Linked DNA regions of Homo sapiens: region 1 is linked to region 2. Evidence: fine-mapped expression QTL. Tissue or cell type: cartilage. Region 2 holds a variant in brackets; the other region holds the start of a gene. All regions are shown on one strand. Distances are from middle to middle.

What was found. PIP is the estimated chance that this variant, and not a neighbour inherited with it, causes the effect.
Region 1: it holds the start of GPATCH3, and the variant in region 2 is the best candidate, but not a certain one, in a credible set for the expression of GPATCH3 in cartilage (Steinberg 2020, PIP 0.51).

Annotation. Positions count from the first base shown.
Region 1 is chr1:26,895,485-26,903,484 of GRCh38, forward strand. It overlaps GPATCH3 (G-patch domain containing 3), which reads right to left and starts at 4,983. Exons shown (of 7, transcript NM_022078.3): 1 at 4,508-4,983; 2 at 1,817-2,241. The coding sequence starts at 4,958. It also overlaps a transcript of NUDC not described here. RefSeq lists an enhancer at 4,928-5,047.
Region 2 is chr1:26,246,032-26,256,865 of GRCh38, forward strand. CEP85 (centrosomal protein 85) reads left to right here. Exons shown (of 14, transcript NM_001319944.2): 4 at 9,140-9,834. It also overlaps the pseudogene LOC124904684. Among named protein-coding and RNA genes, the nearest start is that of CEP85, 17 kb to the left of the region's middle. The variant G/T (reference allele first, on the strand shown) is at 6,220.

The sequences.
Region 1 (8,000 bases), 650 kb after region 2:
CTGCATTCCAGCCAGGACAATAGAACCAGAGCCTGCTTAAAAAAAAAAAAAAAAAAAAAGGAAAGGAAGGAAGGAAGGGGAGAGAAGAGGAGAGGGGAAGTCAGGATGGTACCACACTAGGGATGTGGTCCAGATGTCTTAGCAATCTTGGCTGGGAGCTTTTTTTTTTTTGAGACAGAGTCTCACTCTATCGCCCAGGCTGGAGTGCAGTGGTGCGATCTCAGCTCACTGCAACCTCCACCTCCTGGCTTCAAGTGATTCTCCTGCCTCAGCCTCCCAGTAGCTAGGACTACAGGCACCACGCCTGGCTAATTTTTGTATTTTTAGTAAAGGTGGGGTTTCACCATGTTGGCCAGGCTGGTCTCGAACTCCTGACCTCAAATGATCCACCCATCTTGGCCTCCCAAAGTGCTGGGATTACAGGTGTGAGCCACTGCACCCAGCTGGCTGGAAGCTTTGAAACATGGGTGAATTACTTTTTACCCGGAGTACACATTTTTAAAAAAGTTTTCCCAACAAATCACACCTTACTTGATTTTATGGATGTGCAACCAAGTTTGGAGAAAGGAACCAAAGAAATGTCTATGTCACTAATGAAGTGAGAGTGGAGGCTACTGTTCAATCTGCTGACTCTAGGTCAGAAAATAGAGATGACTGTTCAGCCACATTATGACAGCACGCACAGGTTAGAGAAGAAGCAAGAACTGGGTTCATATCCCAGCTCTACCTCTATTTCCTGAGATGATCTTAGACAAGTCACTGCACATGTTTTGGTCAGCACATTTTCATCTATGAAAATGAACTCTCCTTATCTGGTCTTTCATGTGGAATTTTTTTTTTTTTTCTCAGCTCACTGCAACCTCCGCCTCCTGGGTTCAAGAGCTTCTGTGCCCGGCTGGAAATAATTTTTAAAAAAGAAAAAATGGGCCTGGCGCAGTGGGTCATGCCTGTAATCCCAGCACTTTGGCAGGCCGAGGCAGGTGGGTCACGAGGTCAGGAAATTGAGACTATCCTGGTTAACACGGTGAAACCCTGTCTCTACTAAAAATAAAAAAAAAAAAAAAAATTAGCCGGGCGTGGTGGCACATGCCTGAAGTCCCAGCTTACTCGGGAGGCTGAGGCAGGAGAATCACTTAAACCCAGGAGGTGGAGGTTGCAGTGAGCCGAGATCGCACCACTTCACTCCAGCCTGGGTGACACAGTGAGACTCTGTCTCAAAAAAAAAAAGAAAAAAATGAATAAAGAGGAACCATCCTGGCCAGGCGCAGTGGCTCACGCCTATAATCCCAGCACTTTGGGAGACTGAGGCAGGCGGGTCACGAGGTCAGGAGATTGAGACCATCCTGGCTAACACAGTGAAACCCCGTCTCTACTAAAAATACAAAAAATTAGCCGGGTATGGTGGTGGCCGCCTGTAGTCCCAGCTACTTGGGAGGCTGAGGCAGGAGAATGGCGTGAACCCAGGAGGCAGAGCTTGCAGTGAGCCGAGATCGTGCCACTGCACTCCAGCCTGGACAACAGAGCAAGACTCCGTCTCAAAAAAAAAAAAAAAGGAACCATCCTTATATATCCCTTCCAAGGGAATGAAAAATAAGACCCACTTACGAATCTTCTGGTAAAAGCTCTGGACCATCTCCCTACAGAAATACAGAAACACACATGCAAATATAGTTTTACATTCCTTCTTGGACTCCTTGGAACCCTCCTGAGGACCCCAGGTTAAGAACCCTTGTAATAGACAATTGAAGAGTGGTATTATTAATGCCTTCGGCCTCTTTCAGCTGCCAGCAAGGACAGGGTAGCACACTGTACTCACCTCATCTGAGTGAGACTCTTCTTCCTCTTCCTTCCCCACTTCTTCCTCAGGCTCTCCACAGGGGCTGGCTGGTATATCTGCCAGGTAGGTTCCTTGGGGTATTTCTTCACCCTCTGCTGTATACACAAGCTCTTCCTGCTCCACAGTCTCTGAGTCCTCATACTCAAAAGGCACATTGCCGTAGCGCCGGGAGGAACCTGTCTTGGGGAACTGGAGCTGCAGCTGGGTGATGATCCGAGGGGGTAGGCGGCAGGCCCGGATCAACTCCAAAAAGACCCGCAGGGGAGTCCCCACATTCCCTCTGGGCATCAGCACTGGTGGGTTCAGCTCCGGCAGTTGCTTCAGGTCAGCCAGGGTGAAGGCTTCATTCTCTGCCTTCCAACTCTGCAGTTCCTTCCGGGTCTTGAAGGGAAAGGAGCCCAGACCTTGGAAAGGAGGGAGAATAGATCTTGAAACCCAGAAGCCTCCAGCAACACTTGAGCCAGAAATTGGCCAATGTTTAAATCTGTTAGCCTTTCCCTAGTAAACATCTAGTAAATCCCTAGTAAAAATCTAGGCCGACACAGTGGCTCACGCTTGTGATCCCAGCACTTTGGGAGGCTGAGGCAGGAGGATTGCTTGAGCTCAGGAGTTCAAGACCAGCCTGGGCAAAATGGTGAGACCCTTATCTCTACAAAATATAAAAAAATTAGCTGGGAGTGGTGGTGCACCCTGTGATCCCAGCTCCTTGGGAGGCTGAAGCAGGAGGATTGCTTGAGCCTGGGAGGTGAGGCTGTAGTGAGCCAAGATTGCACCACTGCACTTCATCTCGGGCGACAGAGTACCCTGTCTCAAAAATAAATAAATAAATAATAAAATAAATCCATTAGCCTCATGCTGTTCCTCCCTCTCAAACTTCTCCAGGTCTTTTCATCTCTCCCCAAGCGGAACTACAGAACTACCTAGTAGTTTCATGTCACTTCTCATCACCTTGGCTGGGCATACAAGTTTCTTCCAGCTCTGGCTCCTGATGAACTTTTTTTTTCTTTTTTTTGAGACAGATTCTCACTCTGTCACCCAGACTGGCGTATGCAGTGGTGCAATCTCAGCTCACCGCAACCTCCGCCTCCCGGGTTCAAGTGATTCTCATACTTCAGCTTCCCAAGTAGCTGGGATTACAGGCATGTGCCACCATGCCTGGCTGATTTTTGTATTTCTAGTACAGACAGGGTTACGCCATGTTGTCCAGGCTGGTCCTGGCCTCAAGTGATATCTACCCACCTGATGACCTTTTGATTCTCGGCTGTCACCAACTCCCACCTCCTGCATGTCTTCATACGATGTGTTCCAGCCACACCAAACAATTTTTCTCCTAATTTCTTTTTTTTCTTCTTTTTTTTTTTTTGAGATGGGGTCTCGTTCTGTCACCCAGGCTGGAGTACAGTGGCGCGATCTTGACTCATTGCAACCTCCACCTCCTGGGCTCAAGTGATCCCCCCACCTCAACCTCACAAGTAGCTGGGACTACAGGCATGCGCCACCACAACCGGCTAATTTGTATTTTTGGTAGAGACAGGGTTTCACCATGTTGCCCAGGCTGGTATGGAACTCCTGAGCTCAAGAGATCCACCCACCTGTGCCTCCCAAAGTGCTGGGATTACAGGCACGAGCCATTGCAACCCAGCCCACAATGAACAATTTAACATGCCCTGAAAGTTTTTCACGGGCTTTCAAAGCTGTGTCTTTGCAAACGCCATTTACCCTGAAACCCAGAAACACCATTCTCTCCTATTAACTCCTATTTATTTTTCAAGACCCAGATGGAAAGCCACATTTCATGATCCATCTAGGAAGTTAGTTTCTCCCTTCTCTGTCATCTCACAGCACTTGGTGATAAACAGTATAGGCTCTGGAACAGATGCCTAGGTTTGTTGTAGCTCTGACACTAACTAACTCTGTAACCTCAGGCAAGTCACATAACTTCGGCTTCCCTCAGTTTCTTCACCTATGAAATGGGAGAAACAACAGCTCCTATCTCATAGGACTGTTGAGAGGGGTAAGAAAACAAAAGGCTTAGAACAGCGCCTACTAAATACAGAGTGCTCAGTGAATGCTAACAATTAGAATGACATCTCTGTGGCAATAACCTTTTTCCAAATGTCTTCCTTTGTGGATTCTGAGCACACACTATGTCCAACTGTTCTCTGCATACCCAGCTAGTCACACTAGGTCTAGCAATGTAAGCATTTGTTGAATGTGTGAACTGGAGGGCTCTGCACTGTCCTGTTTCCCCATCAAACTGATTTCCCATGAAAGTGGGAGCTGTCCAGAGAAAAGATTGTCTCTTCATTTGTATCTTACTGAAAGGACTGGGTAGGAAGCACAGAGAGAGCAGGAGAGAAAGACAGTAAAAGGGTTAGAGACTGGATTTCCTTTTTTCTTTCTGTGTTAGTGCAAAATCAACCCCTTGGATAGAGAAAGGGTCTCAAAAGGGACCTAACAAAATGAAGGCTCTTCCGAATAAGCCTCTCCGGTTTATTTTTCTCCATGTATTGGACTAACTCCCTGCAAGTTGAGCCTGAAGCTCTGTCTAGAATATGAACTAAACTCATAGAGTCCTAACCAGAGGCCTGACTTATCCTCACCACTCCTCTGAAAAGGTGCCTCTGTTCCAGGCCCGTAGGCCCAGTCTATTAACTTTCTCACTCTTACCTGATGCCTCCGTAGGTAGCCGAAGTCTGCGGATGAGACAGCGACCCGGTAGCCAAGTCCCGTGAGAATCCAGCCACCGGCGGCCCGAGTACATGCGAATAAGCCTCTGAGCTTGAGCCAACCCCCTTACCGAGATGACGCAGCAGCAGGTGCGGGTCTGGATTGGAGTAGAGTCTCGAGTGGAGAGAGGCCGGACATCGGTGGCCGAAGTCTGAGAGAGAAGCTGGCCCTCAGCGGCTGGGTCGGTAGGAATTAGGGCAGAGTTAGGAGCGGCCTGCGGAGGGGCCCGCTCAGGCCGATGCCGGTAGTGGAAACAGAGGAAGCCACCGCCGCGCTCTTCTCGGAACTGGCTAAAATAGCTCCGTAAATGGGCCGAGCGCAACACGGAGGGGATACCGCTCACTACCAGGTAAACTGTCGCCTCCTCCTCCGCCTCGCCGGGCACCGCCATCTTGGATTGTCACATGATCAGCTAGAACCAAGTCTCGCGAGAACACCGCGAGCAACGTTCCAGCCCCTGCGTTGCGAGATTGTGAAAATTCTAACTAGTCCTTTGGGATTGGGGTTGTGGAACCTGGAGCTGGAAGATCCGAAGTCTTCTGTGTTCCTTTCCCACAGAGGGAAGCCGGCGATGATGGAAAAACTCACCTGGAAAATGGGGTCATAGAGTTCTTTCATAAAGCTCTCATGAGGACCAAATAAGAAGCCTGCGGGAGGGGTCATTTTTGAGGTATTTAGTTGTGGATATTGCACACCTAATCTCAACCTTCCTCAGTTCTGAACCTTTAGTCGTTCTTCCATTTATTTTTCCAAAATGTGTTGATGAACTCCCACAAATCGGTAAGAAAAAGATAACCCGGTAGAAAAATGGGCCGAAGATACTTCGCAAAAGAGGAAACACGCAGGTCCAATTTACAATGAAAGTGCTATGAGTTACTAGAGGCTTACGTTAAAGAAAAGATGCACAACTCAATAATAAAAGAAATGCAGCGAGACCCACTTTGCATCCACTATGTTGGCAAACTTTAAAACCTTAGAGTCGATGACAACATGGTGGAACTGAAGCTCTCATACACTGTTGGTGGAAATGTAAGTTGATACAACCACTTTGGGAAACAATTGGCGTTATCTAGTAAAAGCAAAGCTACACATCATTTGACTCAGCACTTGTAGGTAATATTTTATTTATTTTTGAGTTGGGGTCTCGCTCTGTCGCCCAGGCTGGAGTGCTGGGACCACAGATGCAACCCACTATGCCTGGCTAATTTTTTAAACTATTTGTAGAGATGGGGTCTCACTGCATTGCCCAGGCTGGTATTGAACTCCAGGGCTCAAGTGATCCACTGGCCTCAGCCTCCCAAAGTGTTAGGATTACAGGTGTGAGCCACGGTCCCCGCCTTTTTGTCTTTTTTTTTTTTTTTTTTTTTTTTTGAGATGGAGCCTCGCTCTGTCATCCAGGCTGGAGTGCAATGGTGCGATCTCGGCTCACTGCAACCTCCGCCTCCCGGGTTCAAGCAATTCTCCTGTCTCAGCCTCCCGAGTAGCTGGGACTACAGGTGCGTGCCACCACGCCCGGCTAATTTTTGTATTTTTAGTAGAGACGGGGTTTCACCATATTGGTCAGGCTGGTCTCGAACTCCTGACCTCAGGTGATCCACCCGCCTTGGCCTCCCAAAGTGCTGAGATTACAGATGTAAGCCACCGCACCCGGCCCTCTTTGTACGTTTTTTAATTGGGTTATTTGATTACTATTGATTCATTGATTCATAATTCAGACAAAGTCTACACATTATACTGGGTGATAGGAGGAACCTGTAGATTGAGAGACCTCAAACAAAAGCAAAAAATAAAGGGCCAAGCTCAGTGGTTCACGCCTGTAATCCCAGCACTTTGGCAAGCTGGTGTAGGAGGATCCCTTGAGCTTAGAAGTTTGAGACCAGCCTGGCCAAGTTGGCAAGACCCTTGTCTAAACAATAAAAAAAATGACTGCACATGTTTATCAGAAGACTTATTGATAATGTTGACTTTTACCCAAGCCCTGTGATCCTGGAAAACTAAGGCTTAAGAAATGCCTTCCCACTGTTTTGTGTTCTGGAACACAGCATATTGCAAAAAAACATCCTTCCCCAAGTGAGTTAGGTAAGACTGGTGTATGCCCCTCTGGTTCACCAATGACAAAGCCAGACACAGACTCCATATTCCAAATCTCCTCATGAAAGCTTTGAGGAACTTCTTGTCCCCACTGATCAGTTGGAACAAACTTTGGTTAAAACTTCTCTCCTTCCCCCAGCTTCCCGAACTTTGGCTTACCCTCAGCTTGAGCCAGCGCACATCTCCTCCTTAACAGCCTCTCCTGAGAATAGGCTGGCTTCAAGGTAAAGCATTATCTGATCTACTGTCCCATCATGCCACTCCTGATCATCCCACTTCCTCCCACCCAGTTCTGCCCTGTTTACTCCTCTGTATGAGAGAAGAACCCTTTTTGCCTAACCCTTGAGTCACTTGCAGATATTATGGTCAGAGGGTCCTCCCTGCTGCAATATTCTTCCTCCTTCTATTGCAATAGTTCCTTTCTTCCCTTGCAATAATCCTTTCAAATAAAATCTCTCCTGGCAGGGTGTGGTAACTCACACCTGTAATCTTAGCACGTCGGGAGGTTGAGGTCGGAGGATCACTTGAGCCCAAGAGAGCAAGGCTGCAGTGAGCCATGATTGTGCCATGCATTCGGTGGGCAGCAGAATGAGAATCTGTCTCAAAAAAAAAAAAAATTATAATGGCTGGGCGCAGTGGCTAATGCCTGTAATCCCAGCACTTTGGGAGGCTGAGGTGGGCGGATCACTTGAGGTCCAGAGTTCGAGACCAGCCTGGCCAACATGGTGAAACCCCGTCTCTACTAAAAATACAAAAATTAGCCACTCATGGTGGTATGCGCCTGTAATCTCAGCTCCTCAGGGAAGCTGAGGCACGAGAATCGCTTGAACCCAGGAGGCGGAGGTTGCAGTGAGCTGAGATCACACCACTGCACACTCCATCCTGGGCAACAGAGCGAGACTCTGTCTCAAAAAAAAAAAAATTATAATAAAATCTCTCCTTACCAAGCCTGGATTTGTTTTTTATTTCACAGTATATATAAATATTCATAGCTACAGTCTTTTTAAGTGCAAAAAGCTGGCTTTTTGTACTAATAATCTCAGTTAAAGCCAGTCAGAAAACACAGAATTGTTTTATTTATGCAAAGTTCCAAAAATGCAAACTAAAAAATATTCTTAGGGCTACATAAATAAATAAGCTTTAAAATCAGGAAGAAAAGCAAATAAATGATTAACATAAAATCCAGGGTAGTTGTTACCTTTGGAGGGAAATGATAGATTTAGAAAGGGACTTCAAAGTTAATGGTAATAATGACCTATGAAACAATAGAGTTCATTCTGTTATTCTTTATACTTTACACATATTTATTAATATTATTTTGTTTTACTCAATGTTTAAAATG
Region 2 (10,834 bases):
CCGTTTTTTATTCCTCTAGGGAAATACATATGTATTTCCCTTCTGTGCACTCTTTTTAAATTGTAGCAGCCTTTTTGGTGAGAATGTAGAGAAATGGAAACTTTTGTGCATTGCTGGTAGGAATGTAAAGTATTGCAGCTGCTTTGGAAAACAGGCAGTTCCTCAAAAGGTTAAACATAGAGTTATTCCTGACCCGATAGTTCTACTCTTAGATATATACCCAGGAGAAATGAATACACAAGTTTTTGTGTGGACTTGTACATAAATGTTGGTAGCAGCATTATTCATGATAGTCAAAAGTAGAAACAATCCAAAACCCACAACTGATGAATGAATGAATATCCATATAATACAGTAGAATATTATTCAGCAATAAAAAGAAATGAAATACTGGTACATGCTACCTTAAAAACATATACTGGCCAGATGTAGGGGCTGATGTCTATAATCCTAGCGCTTTGGGAGGCCAAGGCGGGTGGATTGCCTGAGCTCAGGAGTTCGAGACCAGCCTGGGCAACACGGTGAAAGCCCATCTTTACTAAAATACAAAAAATTAGCTGGGCGTGGTGATGTATGCCTGTAATCTACTCGGGAGGCTGAGACAAGAGAATTGCTTGAACCCGGGAGGCAGAGGTTGCAGTGAGGTGAGATCGTGCCATTGCACTCCAGCTTGGGCAACAGAGTGAGACTCCGTCTTTAAAAAAAAAAAAAAATTATATACTAAGACTGTATTTTCAGGGATCGTTTCTGTAGTATGTTACTAGAGAAGTTTTTCTGAATGTGTAGAGCACCGTTAAGAAAAAGAAAATAAAATGAAATAACCATTATATATGAAGTTAAAAAAAAGCCAGACACAAAAGGCTGTATATTGCATGATTCCCTTTATATCAGGGGTCTCCAACCCCTGGGCCAAGGACCGGTACCAGTCTGGCCTGTTAGGAACCACACAGCAGGAGGTGAGCAGCAGGTCGAGCGTTACCGCCTGAGCTCCATCTCCTGTCAGATCAGTGGCGGGATTAAATTCTCACAGGAGCAGGAACCCTATTGTGAAATGTGCATTTGAGGGATCTAGGTTGTGTGCTCTTTATGAGGATCAAACTAATGCCTAAAGTCCAGAATAGGTGAATGTACAGAAACACAAAGTAGATTAATGGTTTTCTAGGGCTTCGGAAGCTGGTGGAAACAGCATGACTGCCAAAGGGTAAGAGGTTTTCTTTTTGGAGTGATGAAAATGTTGTAAAATTGATTGTAGTGATTATGCAACTCCATTAATATACTAAAACCCATTGAATTGTACACCTCAAGTGAGCAAATTGTATAATATGTGAATTGTATTTCAATAAAGGTTTTTGTTTTTTGTTTTTCTTAAATAGGTATGAGCTGAGAGGAGTAAATTTAAAAATGAAAAGAAAAAAAAAAAGCCAGGGACAGTGGTCTGTACCTATAGTCCCAGCTGCTCCCAAGGCTGAGGTGGGAAAATCACTTGAGCCCACGAGTTTGAGTACAGTCTGGGCAACATAGTGAGATCTTGTCTCCAAAAAAAAAAGAGGGTAGTGGGGACCACATCTACTATTACTGGTTCCTAGACATCTAGCATTAATTTTAGTTTTTGTTTGTTTGTTTTATAAAGATAGGGTCTCTTTTTGTCACCCAGGCTTGAGTGCAATGGCGTGATCACAAGCTCATTGCAGCCTTGAACTCCTGGGCTCAACCTATCTTTCCACCTAAGCCTTCCAAGTAGCTGGGACTACAGGCGTGTACCATCACACTCAGCCAGTTTGTTTTGTTTTGTTTTGTTTTGTTTTGCGTGTGGAGTCAGGTTCTCACCATCTTGCCCAGGATGGTTCTTGAACTTCTGGGCTCAAGCAGTCCTCCTGCCCTGACTTTCCAAAGTGCTGGGATTACAGGTGTGAGCCACTGCACCCAGCCCCTAGAGTTAATTTTGATAGTTTGACAACTATGTGTATAATGGGGACTGTGCTCAGTAACTATTGAGTAGAATTGAATCATAGATTTTGAGGTACACAGGACTTCAAAAATTGCCTCTGCTCGTTTTGATTGGTGAATAACAAAAATTCCCCAAGGAGTTAAGTAACTTGCCTAACATCATACAGCTGGTTATCAGATTCTGGTCTCCTGACTGTGTAATATTCTATCAATTGTGTAATCAAAAATCTTACTGTTAATTTAATTTTCACTTGTTAAGGTTTTGTCTACATGTGCAGTCATAGGACCTTTTTATTTTGATTAAATAATAGATATTTTTAAAATCAATCAGTGGTCTAGATTTTTCCCCCATTGAAATGACCAGCTGTATTTAATTCAGTTACATTGCTACACAGATTGTGTGTGTGACTCTCTTTTTTATTCTTTTGGGAAAATAACTTACATTCTAGTGCATTTTTTAAAAGTTGTAATAGTCTTCTCGAGATAGGGGTCAAAGATATTGGTCTAGAAGTTTTTTTTACTTCTTCTTATTTTTTCGAGACAGAGTCGCTCTGTCGCCCAGGCTGGAGTGCAGTGGCCCAATCTCGGCTCACTGTAACCTCCACCTCCTGGGTTCAAGCGATTCTCCTCTTTCAGCCTCCCGAGTAACTGGGATTACAGGCGTGTACCACCATGCCTGGCTAATTTTTGTATTTTTAGTAGAGATGGGGTTTCACCATGTTGGCCAGTCTGGGTCTTGAACTCTTTTTTTTTTTTTTTTTTTTTTGAGACCGAGTCTCGCTCTGTTGCCCAGGCTGGAGTGCAGTGGGGCAATCTCGGCTCACTGCAAGCTCCGCCTTCCGGGTTAATGCCATTCTCCTGCCTCAGCCTCCCAAGTAGCTGGTACTACAGGCACCCGCCACTACGCCCGGCTAATTTTTTGTATTTTTAGTAGAGACGGGGTTTCACCGTGTTAGCCAGAATGGTCTCGATCTCCTGACCTCACGATCTGCCCACCTCGGCTTCTCAAAGTGCTGGGATTACAGGCGTGAGCCACCACGCCCAGGCCTAGACATTTTTTAAACTGCTATGTTTGTTACATACCATGATCCTAATCTTAACTCTTTTTGTGTGTTTGTTTTGAGACGGAGTCTCACTCTGTCACCCAGGCTGGAGTGCAGTGGCATGATCTTGGCTCACTGCAACCTCCGCCTCCCGGGTTCAAGCGATTCTTCTGCCTCAGCCTTCTGAGTAGTTGGGATTACAGGCGTGTGCCACCACACCCAGCTAATTTTTGTATTTTTAGTAAAGACGGGGTTTCACCTTGTTGGCCAGACTGGTCTCGAAGTCCTGACCTCAGCTGATCCACTCACCTTGGCCTCTCAAAGTGTTGGGATTATAGGCGTGAGCCACTGCTCCTGGCCTCTAATCTTAACTCTTACACATTTTGTTCATGAATCTAGCTTGCGGTCTAGTTGACAAGAACCCCTGTGACTGGTATACAGTATAGTTCATTGTTGCATCTTTAAATTTAATAGGCATGCTTTTGATTCCACCCTTCTTCACTAAGGTGTTTTACCTTGAAAGATTCTCGAGGGACAGAGTAGAGGTGGGTACTGAAGAGTTCAGAATGCTTTCAGCTCTTTGCAAAAGACTGAAATAGTCACTGGTGTAATTCAGGCTACTGAATCACTTCAGGTGTAGACTGAAGTGACTGAGATTTGGTAATAGCTGAATCTACCCTTACTGTGAAAGGAAGTTTGCTCAAAAATGAGTTGTTTTTTAGGGTGGGGAGGGGTCATAAAATGTGGTTAAGTAGGGGAGAGATTTAGAACTATATTCTTAAAATGGCAAAACCCCAAAGTTTTTGGGAACTGTAGATTTCTGTAAATAAAAATCACATATCCCATGCATTGTATTTTTTAAAGAGATGGATCTCACTGTGTTGCCTACACTGGAGTGCAATGACTGTTCACACAGGTACCATCATAGTGTACTATAGCCATGAACTCGGTGGGGCTCAAGTAATCCTCCTGAGTTAGACTACTGAGTAGCTGGGCCTACAGAGATGCACCACCTGCCTGGTTCCCATACACTAAATTTTGAATGCCTTTGAAAATTGTAGAAGATAGAGGTCCCTTTGAAAATGAGTGTTGCTATTTCATTTCAAAATATTCTAAACCACAGACCAGACTTACGGTGTAACTCAGAGGTCCCCAACTCCTGGCCCGTGGACCAGTACCAGTCCATGGCATATTAGGAACCAGGCCACACAGCTGGAGGTGAGCAGCAGGCGAGCAAGCATTACTGCCTGAGCTTGCGCCTTCTGTCAGATCAGTGGTGACATTAGATTCTCATAGGAGCACGAACCCTATTGTGAACTGTGCATGTGAGGGATCTAGGTTGCTCAGTCCTTACGAGAATCTAATGCCTGATGATCTGAGGTGGAACAGTTTCATCCTGAAACCATCCCCCCAACCATCGTCTGTGGAAAAATTGTGTTCCACAAAACGATTCCCTGGTAACAAAAAGGTTGGGAACCGCTGGTGTAACTTTACATTTCATAGCACAGTTAGTCTGAATCAGGCAGTTTACTTAATATAAATAGATAAACCCAATAGATAAGTTAAAAATGTGGACAAAGACCTCACCTTAATTTTCTAATATGTCCATTTATCATCTATAAAAAATTAGAAAAGCCATATTCTTCTGGGTCAGTTGGTACTTTTCTTCTTGGCTTTGGTTTTGGCATTATTTTGGGGTTATCTTAGTGTATTTTCTGTTACTGTAAGAGAATACCTGAGACAGTGTAACTTATACAGAAAAGATGTTTATTTTGCCCAGGGTTCTGGAGAGTGAGAAGTCCAAAGGCATAGTGGCAGCATCTGGCGAAGGCTTTTGTGCTGTATCATAACATGGTGGAAAAGCAGAGACCACTAGAGTGAGCCAAGCTTGCCTTTTTTTTTTCTTTTTTCTTTTTTTTTTTTTTTTTTTTTTTTTTGAGACAGAGTCTTATTTCTGTCACTCAGGCTGGAGTGCAGTGGTGGGATCTTGGCTCACTGCAGCTTCCGCCTCCCATGTTCAAGTGATTTCTCCTGCCTCAGCCTCCCGAGTAGCTGGGATTACAGGCACCCGCCATCATGCCCAGCTAATTTTTGTATTTTTAGTAGAGATGGGGTTTCACCATGTTAGCCAGGCTGGCCTTGAACTCCTGACCTCAAATGATCCGCTTGCCTCTGCCTCCCAAAGTGCTAGGATTACAGGCATAAACCACCGTGCCCAACCCAAGCTTGGTTTTTTTTTTTTTTTTTGAGGTGGAGTTTAGCTCTTGTTGCCCAGGCTGGAGTGCAATGGTGCAATCTCGGCTCACTGCAACGTCTGCCTCCCGGTTTCAGGCGATTCTCCTGCCTCAGCCTCCTGAGAAGCTGGGACTACAGGCATGCGTCACCACGCCCAGCTAATCTTGTATTTTTAGTGGAGACAGGGTTTCTCCACGTTGATCAGGCTGGTCTCAAACTCCGGACCTCAGGTGATCCGCCCACCTCAGCCTCCCAAAGTGCTGGGATTACAGGCATGAGCCACCATGCCCGGCCCCAAGCTTGCTTTTATAACAACCCACTGCTTTGAGAACTAACTCACTTCTGCTAATCTATTATGAGGCTTCTACCCTCATGACCCAGTCACCTCTTAGAGGCCCCCACCTCTTAATACTGTTACATTGGCAATTAAGTTTCCAACACATGAACTTTTGGGGGACAGACACTTTCAAACCACAGCAGGGGGTGTGGGCTCAAAACTGAATTTGGTGAATCTAGAGAGAGTGGTGCTATGGATGGAGACTGGAAGGAGGTATTGCAAAGTTCATGGTAGCAACCCCTCATGTGCTACAACCTCACAGTCTTCTGTTTTGTAATTACACCGTGGGAGCAGTGACCCTTGGTAAGAACTGATAACTATGGTGCTGTTATGGAGGATTTAAAACATATTGCTTATGGTTAAGCACGGTGGCTCATCCCTGTAATCCCAGCACTTTGGGAGGCCGAGACAGGTGAATCACTTGAGGTTAGGAATTCAAGACCAGCCTGGCCAACATGGTGAAACCCCGTCTACTAAAAATACAAAAATTAGCCAGGCATGGTGGCGGGCTCCTGTAATCCCAGCTACTCGAGAGGCTGAGGCAGAAGAGTCGCTTGAACCCAGGAGGCAGAGGTTGCGGTGAGCCAAGATCGTGCCACTGCACTCCAGCCTGGACAACAGAGTGAGTGAGACCCCATCTCAAAAAAGAAAAAATTG[G/T]GCCGGGGGCAGTGGCTCACACCTGTAATCCCAGCACTTTGGGAGGCCGAGGCGGGCGGATCACCTGAGGTTGGGAGTTCAAGACCAGCCTGACCAGCATGGAGAAGCCCTGTCTCTACTAAAAATACAAAATTAGCCGGGCGTGGTGGAGCATGCCTTTAATCCCAGCTACTTGGGAGGCTGAGGCAGGAGAATCGCTTGAACCCAGGAGGAGGAGGTTGTGGTGAGCCAAGATCGCGCCATTGCACTCCAGCCTGGGCAACAAGAGTGAAATTCCGGCTCCAAAAAATAAAACAAAAAATTGTATTGCTTACTAGTCTTTGAAGTCTTTATCACTAGCAGTCTGCCTTAACCTTGTGTACTAGTCCTATATTTAAGTTGTGAGACATCAGAAACTGGGTCCTTTAACTGAGAAATTTCTTTCTTGGTCCTGAGAGACTAATGCATGTTATCAGAACTTATTCAGGTTTTTGTTTTGTTACGTGTGTGTGTGTTTTTTTAGTGTGGCCTTTTATATATCCCCAAGATCATCTTCAGTATAGCAAATTAGATACTATGCATGTAATATAAGGCTTGCACGTCTTTTTTTAAAGTATTTATTCCTCCTGTCTAACCGAAATGTTTTACCCTTTGATCAGCATCTCTCGATTCCCCCTGCTCCCAGCTTCTGGTAACCACAATTATTCTCTCTGTTTCTATGTGTCGAGGTTTTTTTTAGCTTCCACATATAAGTAAGAACGTGCAGTATTTGTCATTTTGTGCCTGGCTTATTTCTCTTAGTGTCCTCCAGTTTCATCCATGTTGTTGCAAGTGACACAATTGACATCTTTTATAAGGCTGGTATTCCGTTGTGTAATATACTGCATTTTCCTTATCTGTTCGTCTGTTGATTCTATAACTTGGCTATTGTGAATAATTACTCAGTAAACATGGGATTGTAGATATCTCTTGGACATACATATTTCATATCGTTTGGATATATACCCAGAAGTGGATTGCTGGATCATATGGTAACTATTTTTAGTTTTTTGAGGAGCTACATACTCCATTGTTTTCCACAGTGGCTGTGTTACATTCCCCCCAACTGTGTACTAGAGTTCCCTTTTCTCTGCATCCTCTCCAAACTTGTTATCTTTCATCTTTTTTTTTTTTTTTTTGAGATGGAGTCTCACTCTGTCGCCCAGGCTGGAGTGCAGTAGTGCGATCCTGGCTCATTGCAACCTCCACCTCCTGGGTTCAAGCGATCCTCCTGCCTCAGCCTCCCGAATAGCTGGGACTACAGGCGCGTGCCACCATACCTGGCTAATATTTTGTATTTTTAGTAGAGACAGGGTTTCACCGTGTTAGCCAGGATGGTTTCGATCTCCTGACCTCATGATCCCCCCTCCTCAGCCTCCCAAAGTGCTGGGGATTACAGGCATGAGCCACTGCGCCCGGCCTCATCTTTTTCATCATAGCCATTCTGACAGGTGTGAGGTGGCTTGCCCATATTTTTAAAGAGTTGCTTAAGGCCGGGCATGGTGGCTCACACCTGTAATCCTAGCACTTTGGGAGGCTGAGGCAGGTGGATCACTTGAGCCCATGAGTTCGAGACCAGTCTGGGCAACATGGCGAAACCCCATCTCTCCTAAAAATACAAAAACTGAGGTGGGAAGATCACCTGAGCCTGGGGAGGTCGAGGCTGCAGTGAACTGTGATCACGCCACTGTGCTCCAGCCTGGGTGACAGAGTGAGACCCCATTTCAAAAAAAAAAGTTGTTTAATGAGAAGGTCGTAGCTGATCTATACTTACATAATTCTGGGAACAATTATAGTATTTGTTGTTGTTATCTGAGTGTTCTCTGTGTTGGTTGCTGGGGAGAAAAAGAAACAAGTTGGTAGTCGCTCTTCTCCGTGGTAGATATGCTTGATTTGGGAACGAGTACTGAATATAGTTGAAAAGAGAAGAAATTGGTATTCCTTATTTCCTTATTCAGTTTTCTGCCTGCTGAAAGCAATAAGTATGTTACCTCACATTCCTCCCTTATTGTTTGCTTGCAGTAGTCCCCCTCAGAGTAGTACTTGAAAGTTGGAAATAGGTAGAAATGTGAACCTTGTATAGTAGGGCTAATCAAGGGTTGTCTCCCAAGACCAGGCAGGAGCCAAAGGAAACACAAATTCAGTCTGAAGGAAAAGTTAAAAAAAAAAAAACACAGTTGGGTACACACAAGGGGGCAAGTGAAAGGCAAAATATAAAATAGAGGATTTCAGTGTGTACCCAATTGAGAGTGCTCACTGTGCTAGAGTGAAACCTGAGAGTTACTAAGAATAACTTCACATATCCAGGCAGTCAGGTTTGGGGTATGGGAGAGAGAACAGAATCCTGCCTCAGATGCCATACTCCCTGTCCTGCATACTGAGCAAGACTGTCTAGTTCGCTTCATTCTTCAGATAGTTTGGACTCGTTGCTCACCTTCCTGGGGGAGCTTTTGGAGGTCGCAGAAGATTCTGGTGACTCTTGGAAAGGATATTTTTATTAGATTTGATTATAGCTGAGAGTTGTCCAGCTTCCAGAAGAGTAGGACCTAACTCATTTTCCTTAAGTAAGTAATTTGTTTTAAAGTTTAAATTTTTTAAAAAACTTTTTAAAAGTTTTTCAGCTTTGTCTGTTGACTGACAAGATTTTTTTTATTCCAGTACAAAGGACTAAGTTAAAAGTGAAGTCATTATTGCCTTTTGTTAGTTTACCTTGTGAATGGCATTTGAGATCCTGGAACATACATCTCCCAGTTTGGTTGCCGTTTCTTTCTGCCTGATACTTTTGATGATGGTGCTCTCTCTGCTTGGTCTCAGGACAGGCCGAGAGCTTCTGGCATAGCATTCAAACTCAAGAAAGCTTGCTACTTCAATTTTTACTTATGGAAGACTATTCTCTCCCCAGATTTTTGCAGCTCAAGTGGCAGTCCTCCTTTCCAGCCCATCAAAAGCCACGTAACCATTCCAACAGCCCATGTGATGCCTTCTACTTTAGGGACCTCTCCTGCCAAGCCAAATTCTACACCTGTTGGACCCTCTTCCTCTAAACTCCCTTTGTCAGGGTTGGCTGAAAGTGTGGGAATGACAAGAAATGGAGACCTCGGTGCAATGAAACATTCTCCAGGCCTATCTAGAGATCTCATGTATTTCTCTGGTGCTACTGGAGAAAATGGAATTGAGCAGTCCTGGTTTCCAGCAGTGGGCCATGAAAGACAAGAAGAGGCGAGGAAGTTTGATATTCCTAGCATGGAATCTACCCTCAATCAGTCGGCAATGATGGAGACACTTTATTCAGATCCTCACCACCGAGTCCGCTTCCACAACCCAAGAACCAGCACAAGTAAGGAGTTGTACAGAGTGTTGCCTGAGGCCAAGAAGGCACCGGGCAGCGGGGCAGTGTTTGAGCGGAATGGACCACATTCTAATAGCAGTGGGGTCCTCCCTTTGGGACTCCAGCCTGCTCCCGGGCTCTCCAAGCCTCTGCCCTCTCAGGTGTGGCAGCCGAGTCCTGACACTTGGCATCCCCGAGAGCAATCTTGTGAACTCAGCACTTGTCGGCAGCAGCTGGAATTGATTCGTTTACAGATGGAGCAAATGCAGGTAGAGGTCTATCTTTCCTTGGATTTTCTAGGTTCTGTACAGTTCTTAGAATTGTAATAGCTTTTGTCCTTTGAATTTTGGCTTAAAGAAAATAGCTGTAAAAAGAAGGAAGATGTTTGTAGACAGGAAATACAGGCTTGTGAGCTGTTGGCCATTGAATCTGTTTGGTAGTCAAATTAAGCACCAGATAGGGTCTCCAAAATAGCAAAAGGTTACAAAGGAAAACCTAAAAACGTATTTATACGTCACTAGGCTAAGTACTTTCACATACAGCATTTTATTTAATCTTCATAGTGTACTAACGAGGTAGATGTAGAAACTTACCAGGTTCTTAGACTACATAATCTGTACGGGGTCATAGAGTTGGTAATTGGCAGAGCTGGGGTTTAAAAACCATCTTTGAGGCCAGGTGGCTCACGCCTATAATCCCAGCATTTTGGGAGGCCGAGGCGGGCAGGAGTTCGAGACCAGCCTGGCCAGCAGAGTGAAACCCTGCCTCTACTAAAAATATAAAAATTAGCCAGGTGTGGTGGCATGCGCCTGTAGTCCCAACTACTCAGGAGGCTGTGGCAGGAGAATTGCTTGAACCTGGGAGGCGGAGGTTGCAGTGAGCCGAGACTGCGCCATTGCACTCCAGTCTGGATGACAGAGCGAGGCTCTGTCTCAAAAAATAAATAAATAAATGTGAAAACCTTCTTTGAGCCCCTGTGTTCTCTCTACCACTTTTGTATTTTCTTTTTTTTTTTTTTTTGAGATGGAGTCTTGCTCTGTTGCCCAGGCTGGAGTGCAGTGGCGTGTTCTCGGCTCACTGCAACCTCTACCTCCCAAGGTCAAGTGATTCTCCTGCCTTAACCTCCCGAGTAGCTGGGACTACAGGTGCGTGCCAACACGCCCAGCTCTTTTTTGTATTATTAGTAGAAACAGGGTTTCACCATGCTGGCCCGCCTAGTCTCGAACTCCTGACCTTGTGATCCGCCCGCCTCAGCCTCCGAAAGTGCTG